2 separate regions of the Homo sapiens genome follow, and region 2 is linked to region 1. The links come from fine-mapping of genetic effects on gene expression. A gene starts in region 1. The other region holds a variant in brackets. All regions are shown on one strand. Distances are from middle to middle.

Region 1 (5,387 bases):
ACTTGAGCCCAGGAGTTGCAGACCAGCCTGGGCAACATGGCAAGACCCCCTCTCTACAAAAAAAGAAAATTAGCTAGGCGTGGTGACACATGCCTGTAGTCGCAGCTACTTGGGAGGCTAGGTAGGAGGATTGCTTGAGCCTGGGAGGTCAAGGCTGCAGTGAATTGTAATGGCACCACTGCACTCCAGCCTGGGCAACAGTGCAACACCCTGCCTCAAGAAAGAAAAAATCCTTGCCACTGTTTTCCTCAGATACCATTTCTGCTTTCTTTGGTCATACTTTCTTATGAGTTATCTGCAACTCCTGTTTTTATTTCCTCATTTCTAATCCATCCTCAAACATCTGCAGTATGACTTTTGCCTTCATATCTCTACTGATTTCTCAGCAATAACATCAAATACCTCCATGTTACTAAATCCTGTAGACACTTTTTAGCCCTTCTCCTGTCTATGGCAACTAATATTGTTGATCACTTATTTATGCGTTTAGTCAACATATATTAATTTGTGTGTGTGTGTGTGATGGGGCTAGCCTCATGTGTGCAAGAGTGAACAGATTGGTATAGTCCCTACTTTCATGAAACTCTGAAAACATCCTAAAATATACTATTCTGCTTTTCCTCCTACCTCTCTGACTACTCCTTCTCAGTCCTCTTTGCATTCTTGGGTTTATCTGTTTCTACCCCAAGCACTCACTCTCCACATTCTTCATGAATAATGTTCATGCCCACAGATTGAATTATCATCTGTATGCTCACAGTTCACAAATTTAACTCCAGATCATTCCTTATCTTCAGACACATATAATCAAGTACCTCTTGGGTAGAGATCTTCACTCTAACCTAACGTATAAAATGAACTCATCACCTCCCTATTCTTCCCCAAACTTCTGCCATTTCTTATATTTTCCTATTTTCAGTGACTAGTACCACCGTTCCTCCCTTGCCCTAACCTAAAACATAAGCCTTATCAGCCCTAGTGTCAGACTTCCTGGGTTCAAATCTTAATTCTACCTTTGTGTGTGTGTATGTGTGTGTGCGTGTCTGTGTGTGTGACTGCAAGCTCCGCCTTCCAGGTTCATGCCATTCTCCTGCCTCAGCCTCCTGAATAGCTGGGACTATAGGCGCCCGCCACCACGCCCTGCTACTTTTTTTTTGTATTTTTAGTAGAGATGAGGTTTCACCATGTTAGCCAGGATGGTCTCGATCTCCTGACCTCGTGATCTGCCCGCCTCAGCCTCCCAAAGTGTTGGGATTACAGGCGTGAGCCACCGCGCCCAGCCATCTTAATTCTACCTTTTAACTTCTCTGTATCTCTTAAAATAGAGGAAGTAATAGTACCTACTTGGTTATCAGGTGGTGCGGATGTAAAAATGTACTTAGCAGAGTAACTGACATAAAATCATAATAAATATCAACAGTTATTTGTTTAAACCACCATCATCGTGTGGCTGGATCATGTCAACAGTTTCCTGAGTGGTCTCCCATTAGATTATGAGCCCGTGATGGTCCCAAAAGGTGAAAAGAAGGGAGATTGGTCCATACTTTCACCCAAAAGTGGAAGAGAATGAAGTTGGAAAAGCTTTCGGATTGATGCTATATTTTGAAAATAGTATTGGTTCATTTTTCCTTAAAATATATGCATTTTTCAGAGAAAGGAATGGAAAATAAAACAAATATAAAGAAGATAACATTTGTAATCAGCACCCAGAGGGAACCACTAATAGGTATATATACTCCTCTGGATTTAGAGTTTTGTATCTTTTTTTTTTTCTTATTTCAAAGCATTTTTCTGTATCATATTTTTCAACAATATGATTTAAAAGGCACATCCCAACATAGAAATAAATACATGTTCATTGTAGAACACTTTGAAAAATACAGAAAAATATTAGGAAGAAAAATAAAACTCTCACTATCCTGCAATAACCACTTTTAACGTTCTGCTGAATATCCAAGCTTTTTTTTTTTTTTTTTCTTTTGAGATGAGTCTGGCTTTGTTACTCAGGCTGGAGTGCAGTGGCGAGATCTGGGCTCATTGCAACCTCTACCTCCTGGGATCAAGCCATTCTCCTGCCTCAGCCGCCTGAGTAGCCGGGATTATAGGCGTGTGCCACCACCCCCAGCTAATTTTTGTTTTTTCAGTAGAGACAGGGTTTCACCACATTGGCCAGGCTGGTCTCAAACTCCCGACATCAGGTGATCCACCCACCTCAGCCTCCTAAAGGGCTGGGATTGCAGGTGTAAGCCACCACGCCTGGCCTATCCTAGCCTTTTTTTTCTATACATATATAGTCATACTGTATACTGTATTGTTTGGTGTCCTTTTTTTGCTTAACACTTTATGAATTTTCTGTCATAAAATATTCTATAACATTATGCAGCTATCTGATTTACCATAACTGTTTGCATTCTCTCACCTTATACCTGGCTTTCTAATTTCCCCTATTCCCCTATTTTAATAACAGAGGAAATAATAATACATGAGTATGTTATACAAAATTTTAATGTACTTCTGATCACTTTTTTAAGAATGAAGTTTTAAAATACTGAAACACTTTTTGACTCACAGAGTTCATAGGCAAAATGTGAGAAAAATCATCACTTTGCTCTCCATCCTTCCTTACACCCTGAAATTAACCTTAGGGACAGCTAGTTCATTTAACATCATCAATCTTGTTCTCCAGTTCCAGGTCCTGGAATCTAGCTCTTAGTGTCCGAAAGAAACTTACTTTTGTGTAAGCACACCTATTATATACTAGGCACTTTACCTAATTTATCTGGTTTAAACTTCACATGCCCGAGAGAGATACTATCATTGTCTTCATTTCACAGATAAGAAGGTTGATGAGACATTAACTGTCTCAGTCACATTCAGGGTAGGGATTCAAACTCACATCCAATGCCTCCTCAACCTCTTTTACGTGCAGCACTATCCTCTAGCCCCACTGCCCGTATATAGGCCTGGGCTATATCACCATTGTCCGCCCTTGAGCCTGGAAGGAAAATGAGCTGAGGGGTTTTGTTTTTTCAGAAAGGAACAGGATATTTCATCATCTCTATGTTTACGTTTTTCAGAGAATTTCTGTGCGAGGAAACAAATCCATTGTCAGCTTTTTAAAATATATCCCTTTGGAGTAGCCACTTAACATCCTCTGAGGCCCAGATGGGCTAGCTTGCCGGGACCAAAGGAAATCTTTGGGTCTGGAAGGCGACAAGAGATCACAGGCTTTCTAGGTCTACCGCGCACCCCGATGACGTCACGCGGCGACGTTCTCTGACGTCAGAGTTTCCTGCCCACCATCTTTGTCCCTGGCAAAGTGGGTTTTGCGCAGTGGCTTAGACCTAGAAAAGAATCGTGACGGGCAGGAAACCATTACACCACCACCTGGGCTGTGCTCTCCGGCTCCCGCCGCCACCCCCGCCCTCGCCTTCGCCTCCGCCTCCGGTGAGTTCAGGGCGGTTGCCTTTAGGGTGTGTCCCTAATTGACGGGGTCGGGGACGGAGAGAAGGGTAACACCAGGCTGGGTCGGAGACCGGCGGAGGCGAGGAAATCCTAAGAGCGTGACCGTTGATGATGCAGGGAACCGTCGGGTGTGACCATTGAGAGGGAAAAGGTTGGAGAAAGGGTCTCTACCATGATGCCTGTGGTGCGGTGAGGGAATCCTCGGGTGTGGCAGCAGGTAGTTGGGGGCAGGAGGGGAAGATGTGTTTCGGAATTGAGGGTTTAGGGGGACCAGAGGCCAGGGGTGTGGCTGATAGAGCCTGGAGGCCGTGGGGGGAACCGTCTTTCTTCCCCGCTCGGCGTCGTTCACTGAGAGGCTGAGACGTGTCCAGCAAGCCAAAGGGAAAAGGGATTCCCTCAAAGGTTTGCTCATTGATGGGCGAACGTCGTCTCTCGGGTAACTTGAGGGTAAGAGACAACCTCTTCCCTGCTCCGTAATGGAGGAGCATATCGCTAGAATCTTGACCACCTGGGGAAAGAAGAGGCATTCCTTACTCTTGGAGGAAGGAAAGAGTAACCTCCAGAATTGACCCGATGTAAGAGAGGGGGAAGCAAATGGGGGCAAATCTTAACCCAGCATCTTTTTTTTTTTTTTCTTTTTCTGGGCTCTGCAGTAATGGTCTGGTTTGGGAAAGGCTGTAGATTAAGCTGAAAGTAAAGAAACTGGAACGTCCTGTTATTTCCTTATCATTTGAATCCAAATCATTTGTTCATGCTGCTTGTTTTCAAGAGTAGTCTTCTATTGGAGGGGTGGGGTGGGGGGGGACAGGCCTTTATTGAACTCACGCGGATGCTTCATTAAACTTTTGACTTTTATTTTATTTTATTTTTGTATTTTTAGTGACAGGGTCTTACTGTGTAGCCCAGTCTGGTCTCGAACTCCTGGGCCCAAGCGATCCTCCCGCTTCGGCCTCCTAAAGTTTTGTGATTACAGGCGTGAGCCAGCGCGCCCAGCCAAACTTGACTTTTGAGAAGAAAAAATGTTTTGAAAACTGCCAAAGACTTATCATAACCATTGTGGTTTAAAAGAAAGTAAATGCATTAAGCTTAGAAAGGCAGAATGACTAAGAAAGAAGGTGGTCTCAATGAGAATCAATTTAAATGATTAGTTACCTTCCTTGTATACTTCAATTGCTTAGCCTCAGGGTACACTTACAAAGTAGTAATAGAAAGCAGCAGATGAAGGAGGTGCAGCTCTATAAGAAAACGTGTTAAGACATTCCAGTGATGACTAAGCGTGCTGGTAAGGTGAGAACTGTTTGCAGTATCTTAGCCGTTGAAACTTTCAAGGAAGCAGAAAGGATGATGTATAATGCAAACATCCTCACTAAAAGCTGGGTGGTAAAATCAATATAAATCTAATATTCTGACTGTGTATGAAGAAACTCAAGGAAGTCCAGTTCTTTCATTCTTTCTTTCCTTAAAAGATCCATATTTTGAAATACTAACTTTTTAGGCACAGGTTTGAACGAAGCTGAGCAAGGAATATATTAAATAGGGCACGTTCTCCTTTCTCTTGTCCTTTCTTTCCTTCTAGCCTTAGGTTTTCCAGAGTTTAATGTTATTTTGGTTAAGAATTAGATGTAAAACTTTTGAACTCCTTTGCTTCGTTATAATATTAAGAAGCTACTTTGTAGTCTGTTATGTTTAAATAGAAATCACAGGTGATTTTAGCTTTTGTGTCTCATAATTTCTTATGAGCAAGGTAATACCTGATGATGCTATTGTCTTTGCATTATTACTGAATATTTGATTAGAAATGAATTTGGCACCTCTCACCTTTATAATAAAAGATTACTGGAATGACATTTCTGCTTTATAATTTGGTTAACTTTGGCCAGTTTTTCACTATGAGCACTGAGCTTTGTAAAGTCCCACTTTGT
Region 2 (5,387 bases), 59 kb after region 1:
ATGTGATTGTATTTAACAGGCACCATAGGAGAGCTGTATTACGAATTCTGGCCAGACTTCAAACTCAGTCTCATTACCTCTTAAGTATTTATCAAAATTTGACTGAGATAAAGTATTTAGGAAGGATTGCTTAAAGGATACAAGGTAGTGCTGTTCTTACAGATAGTCTGAAATTCACCTCTGAATCAAGCATTATTAATAGACATCTGGATACCTGGACTGCATTGTTTTTGACCCCTAATAAAATTGCTTTTACTAAATTACGCTGATACTAAAATACTATCAGTCTGTAGTAATAACAGTCGTCATGGGAAACTACCCTATTTGGATCTGTTGTTAGCTTGTTATCAGAGTCATTACTTACTTCATTATGTTTTCTTCTTTATGAAGCCCCATCAAATTTCTAACAAGTTTTGGATTTTTCTGTGTATCAGTGTAGCATGCCTGATCAGCTTTCTTTTCCATATTGGTTGTTTGAAACCTTAGAATCACATTTAACAATCTCCCATGGAAACTATGTAGGCCACTGTGGCATGCAGTTTCCTGACTCTGGGTTTAATTAACGCTCTTTAGCCTTAGATGCATTTTTCATAAGCTTCCTAGAACAGGACAGGCTAGAAACTCACTTAATCCTAGTAAGGGTTAGTAAACGATTTCTATTTTATAGATGAGGAAACTCAGAGAGGCCTAATTATTATGGGGCAGAACTAGGACTCAGACTCAGATAGTCTGGCTCTAGGTCTTGCCCATGGTCTTGTCCACTGTGCTATGCTTCCTCTCTAGTCTGAAGGTTAAGAATGACTTGGAGAATACCTATTCCCTGCCTGAAGCAATATTGAGCATAAGCCCATATGTATATGTGTGTTTGCTAGTTTTAAGGTCTTTGTGGATGATTATTTCATACTATAAATAATAAGCAACTTCTCGAGGCTTGCCTTTTTTCAAGACTGAGTCTAGCTCTGTCACCCAGGCTGGAGTGCAGTGGCGTGATCTCGGCTCACTGCAACCTCCACCTCCCGGGTTCAAACAATTCTCCTACCTCAGCTTCCTGAGTAGCTGGGATTACAGGTGCATGCCACCACGCCCAGCTAATTTTTTTTTTTTTTTTTTCCAGTAGAGATGAGGGTTCACCATGTTGGCCAGGCTGGTCTTGAACTCCTGATCTAATGTGATCCTCCTGCCTTGGTCTCCCAAAGCACTGGGATTATAAGTGTGAGCCACAGAGCCTGGCTGAGGCTTGCTTTTTCTGTCCAATTAATTAATGAAGTCTGAGAAGTTATCATAAAACAGTAAGTATGCTGCTGGGTGCTGTGGCTCACACCTGCAATTCCAGCACTTTGGGAGGCCAAGGCGGGCGGATCACTTGAACTCAGGAATTCGACCAGCCTGTGCAACATGGCAAAATCCCATCTCTACAAAAAATACAAAAATTAGCGGAGCATAGTGGCACACGCCTGTAATCCCAGCTACTTGGGAGGTTGAGGTGGGAGGATCGCTTGAGCCCAGGAGGCAGAGGTTGCAGTGAGCTGAGATCATGCCACTGCACTCCAGGCTGGGTAATACAGCAAGACTCTGTCTCGGAAAAAAAAAAAGAAAGAAAAAAAGAATAAGTATGCCTATGTAAGTCTTTTTACCTGGAAGTTTTCTGTTTTTTCCCCAAGTTTGTGAAATAAGAACCTAAATATTTATGGCTAGTGAGTACCAATTTAAGTTTAGGATGCAATGTGGTCGGCTGAATTGTGTTAACTTAAATTGGTATATGTGCTGCCGAAGCGAGCACATGTTAACTTAAATTGGGTAGTGAGGTTCTGATGATGCTACTTCCACTGATTCTGGACATGACTGAGCAAATTTCTTTCATACTGCTTTTCTTCTGTCTCTATAGTAGAGTTAATTAATACTGTTCTTTACCTGTGCTGAGAATTAAGTGAAGTATATGTGAAATCTTAGTGCTTTTAAGTAAAATGGGAGTATAATTAAAAATATTATTAGTTAGGGGGAAAAACCCAACCCTTGAATCTGAGGCTTCATTTCAAAAATTTATCTTTTTCTCTTACCTGTTACACAGAAATTCAATACAATATTCAGTTCAACTGAGTAAAGAATACAAACAAAGGCCGGGCATGGTGGCTTATGCCTGTAATCCCAGCACTTTGGGAAGCCGAGGCAGGTAGATCATCTGAGGTCAGGAGTTCGAGACCAGCCTGACCAAAATGGAGAAACCCCATCTCTACTAAAAATATAAAATTAGCCGAGCGTGGTGGCATGCGCCTGTAATCCCAACTACTCGGGAGGCTGAGGCAGGAGAATCACTTGAACCCGGGAGGCAGAGGTTGCAGTGAGCCAAGATCGTGCCATTACACTCCAGCCTGGGCAAGAAGACCTAGACTCTGTCTCAAAAAACAAAACAAAACAAAACAAAAAAATGTCTAGACGTTAGTAATTATTCTTTGTGATACATGGAATAGAAGTCTTCATGTTTTTCTGTCTATGAACTAGGGGCCACCATCATCAGAATCATTTGGGCTGCTTGTTAAAAATACTAATTACTAGGCCCTACTTTTGATGTAATGAATCAGAATCTCTGAAGTATGGCCCCTGGGTTCTGCACTTTCAGTGGCATTCCTGGTATGTTAAAATGTTGATGCACATTATAGTTTAAGAATTACTGTTTTAGTGCTGGCCTGGTAAGTATTGTTTTGGGACCTCTTCCCCTGAGGAAGGCCTATGGGTCTAGCAGTACAGTAGATCCAAAGCCAAATTATCTGAGTCACCAAACATTTAATGGCAACTTAAGATTACAAAAAGGTCCTGTATTTTTATTTATCTCGGTCTTGACGGTCTGAATTACTGTGGCCTCCATGTAAAATGTGAGGCAGTTGGTGAGGACTGGCTTACAGTAGGCCTAACAGGTCATCCCTCAGAACGACAGAGTTTGAGCAGTTAGGAGATTCTTCCCTACTCCTGACTTTTCAGCCTTGGGAGATTTGCACTCATTTCTCATAGGATTGTATTTTTCAAGTTAGTGTCTGTTTAGACTTTGATCCAGTAACTCTATCTCCAGTAGTTTGCCATATTGCAGCATTTTGAATAATCTGTAGAGGAACTCTCAAATTTTTTTCATATATATATAATTTTTTTTTTTTTTTTTGAGATGGAGTCTCACTCTGTTACCCAGGCTGGAGTGCGG[T/C]GGTGCAATCTCAGCTCACTGCAGCCTCCTCCGCCTCCTGGGTTCAAGTGATTCTCCCTCCTTAGCCTCCCAAGTAGCTGGGATTACAGACATCTGCCACCATGCCTGGCTAATTTTTGTACCCTTTGTAGAGATGGGATTTTGCCATCTTGGCCAGGCTGGTCTCAAACCCCTGGCCTCAAGTGATCAGCCTACCTTGGCCTCCTGAAGTGCTAGGATTACTGAGCCACCGTGCCTGGCTGAGATTTTTGAATTTTGTGAATCCCTATAGGAATTTTTCTTTTTGGTCATTTGGTTAAATTGTTTACATTACATATGGGAGAAATAATTTGAAGAAAAAGCATTTTATTTTGATGAGTATATTATTAAACTATGTATTATAAAGTTGAATACCTTTAAGATATTACTAGTCCATAAAGACAAACTGAATTTTCTAAGTTAATAAGATAAATGCAGTGTTTAATTATGTAATAAAAACCATACTTTACAAATTCTAAAGTACATGTGCCTTAAGGACTGCATATATAGGTTAAAATTTAACGTTTAAGTTACATATAAAAAAATGTGGGAGAGAGGAGTTGCTTCCCTGACCTGATATTTTGAGAAACTTGTATTCTGCTCTTTTAAAAATATCAACTTGTTTTTGTTTTATAATGTTCAAGCTTTGTTTTCAAATGAAGATCTAAATGAGGAGGTTTCAGGCTGCTATTTATAAACACTTAGGAGCAAATTAGTCCCTCAGTGCCCCCCCTCCCCACACACACACAAACAAAATCAACTAAATTAGATATAATTATCACTGTTTCTTTTTTTTAACCCGGGCATTTCAAATACTAGAGACATTTTGATAAGACATTCATATGTATACATATACATATACACATACACACATTTCTATTAGAATAATGCAAGTTATAAATGTAAAGATTATCTTGAGATAAAATTTACTGTTTTAATATTTTATTAATTTGCTGTATTGCAATGTTCTATATGCTTTTCGTCTTTAACCACCAATCCATTATGAGTGCAATTTAAACAATCTGTGACTGAGAAAAACCATTTAAATCTATATAGTCAAAAACATCAGGGTAACTACTGCTATTGAACTGGATGATAAGGGCCTTAAGTGGCTAAATCGTGAATCAATTCATCTGCTCGCTTAGAAACTAAAATGGAAGCCCTCAGATTGTCCTGTTTTAAAGAAAATGTTTTTTGTTTGGTTATGAGTTTTTTGGGTTTTGGGGGTTTGTTTTTTTTTTTTTCTTTTGAGACAGAGTCTCACTCTGTCATCCAGGCTGGACTGCAGTGACTTGATCTCAGCTCAATGCAACCTCCACCTCCTGGGTTCAAATGATTCTTCTGCCTCAGCCTCCTGAGTAGCTGGGACTACAGGCATGAGCCACTGTACCCGGTCTGGTTATGAGTTTGAAATATAGAAATTGAAACAGGGACTTATTGTTGCCTTTAATAAGTTGCTGTTGGAACAACTCGTGCATAAATAAATGCCATCATATAGACATACTTTTGAGGTAGGTACCAGGATATTTATTGCCACTTTATAATGATGACAAAAACAATAAAGAAAACAATAGGCCAGACACGGTGGCTTATGCCTGTAATCCTAGCACTTTGAGAGGCTGAGGTGGGCGGATGACTTAAAGTCAGGAGTTCAAGACCAGCCTGGCCAACATAGAAAAACCCTGTCTCTACTAAAAATACAAAAATTAGCTGGGTGTGGTGGTGCGTACCAATAATCCCAGCTACTTGGGAGACAGAGGCAGGAGAATCACTTGAACCCGAGAGGCAGAGGTTGCAGTGAGCCGAGATACGCCACTGTACTCCAGCCTGGGTGACAGAACAAGACTCTGTCTCAAAATACATGCATACATACATACATACATACATACATACATACATACAAATAAAACAATAATAAAGGTAGAAAGGGAAAAATGGGCAACAGTGAAAATGTCCCTCAATAGTGGACTAATAATTAATGGTGCAGTGGGCATTACAGTGGAAAAGTGCAGTCGTATATATCAACATGGAGAGCAACTTCAGAACAGTATATATAATATGAAACTGGTTTTATATGAAATAAGTGTGTGTGTGTGTGTGTGTGTGTGTGTGTGACCCATCTGGACAGATATATACCACATTACTAATCATGGCTATTTGGGGGATTGGGAGTTGAGAT

Alleles and levels. Positions count from the first base shown, and alleles are read on the strand shown. Sizes are in standard deviations (SD) of each study's normalised expression.
As copies of T replace C in region 2, the expression in sun-exposed skin of the gene that starts at base 3,341 in region 1 goes down (small effect, 0.33 SD a copy in GTEx).

The links.
Region 2: its variant is fine-mapped to the expression of AP2B1 in sun-exposed skin (GTEx, PIP above 0.99). The same link has a PIP of 0.9 or more in unexposed skin.

The regions. Positions count from the first base shown.
Region 1 is chr17:35,583,982-35,589,368 of GRCh38, forward strand. It overlaps AP2B1 (adaptor related protein complex 2 subunit beta 1), which reads left to right and starts at 3,341. Exons shown (of 22, transcript NM_001030006.2): 1 at 3,341-3,447. RefSeq lists enhancers at 3,148-3,317, 3,287-4,486, 3,748-3,857 and a silencer at 3,398-3,517.
Region 2 is chr17:35,643,453-35,648,839 of GRCh38, forward strand. The region is part of intron 12 of AP2B1 (adaptor related protein complex 2 subunit beta 1); the gene reads left to right. Among named protein-coding and RNA genes, the nearest start is that of AP2B1, 59 kb to the left of the region's middle. The variant T/C (reference allele first, on the strand shown) is at 3,191.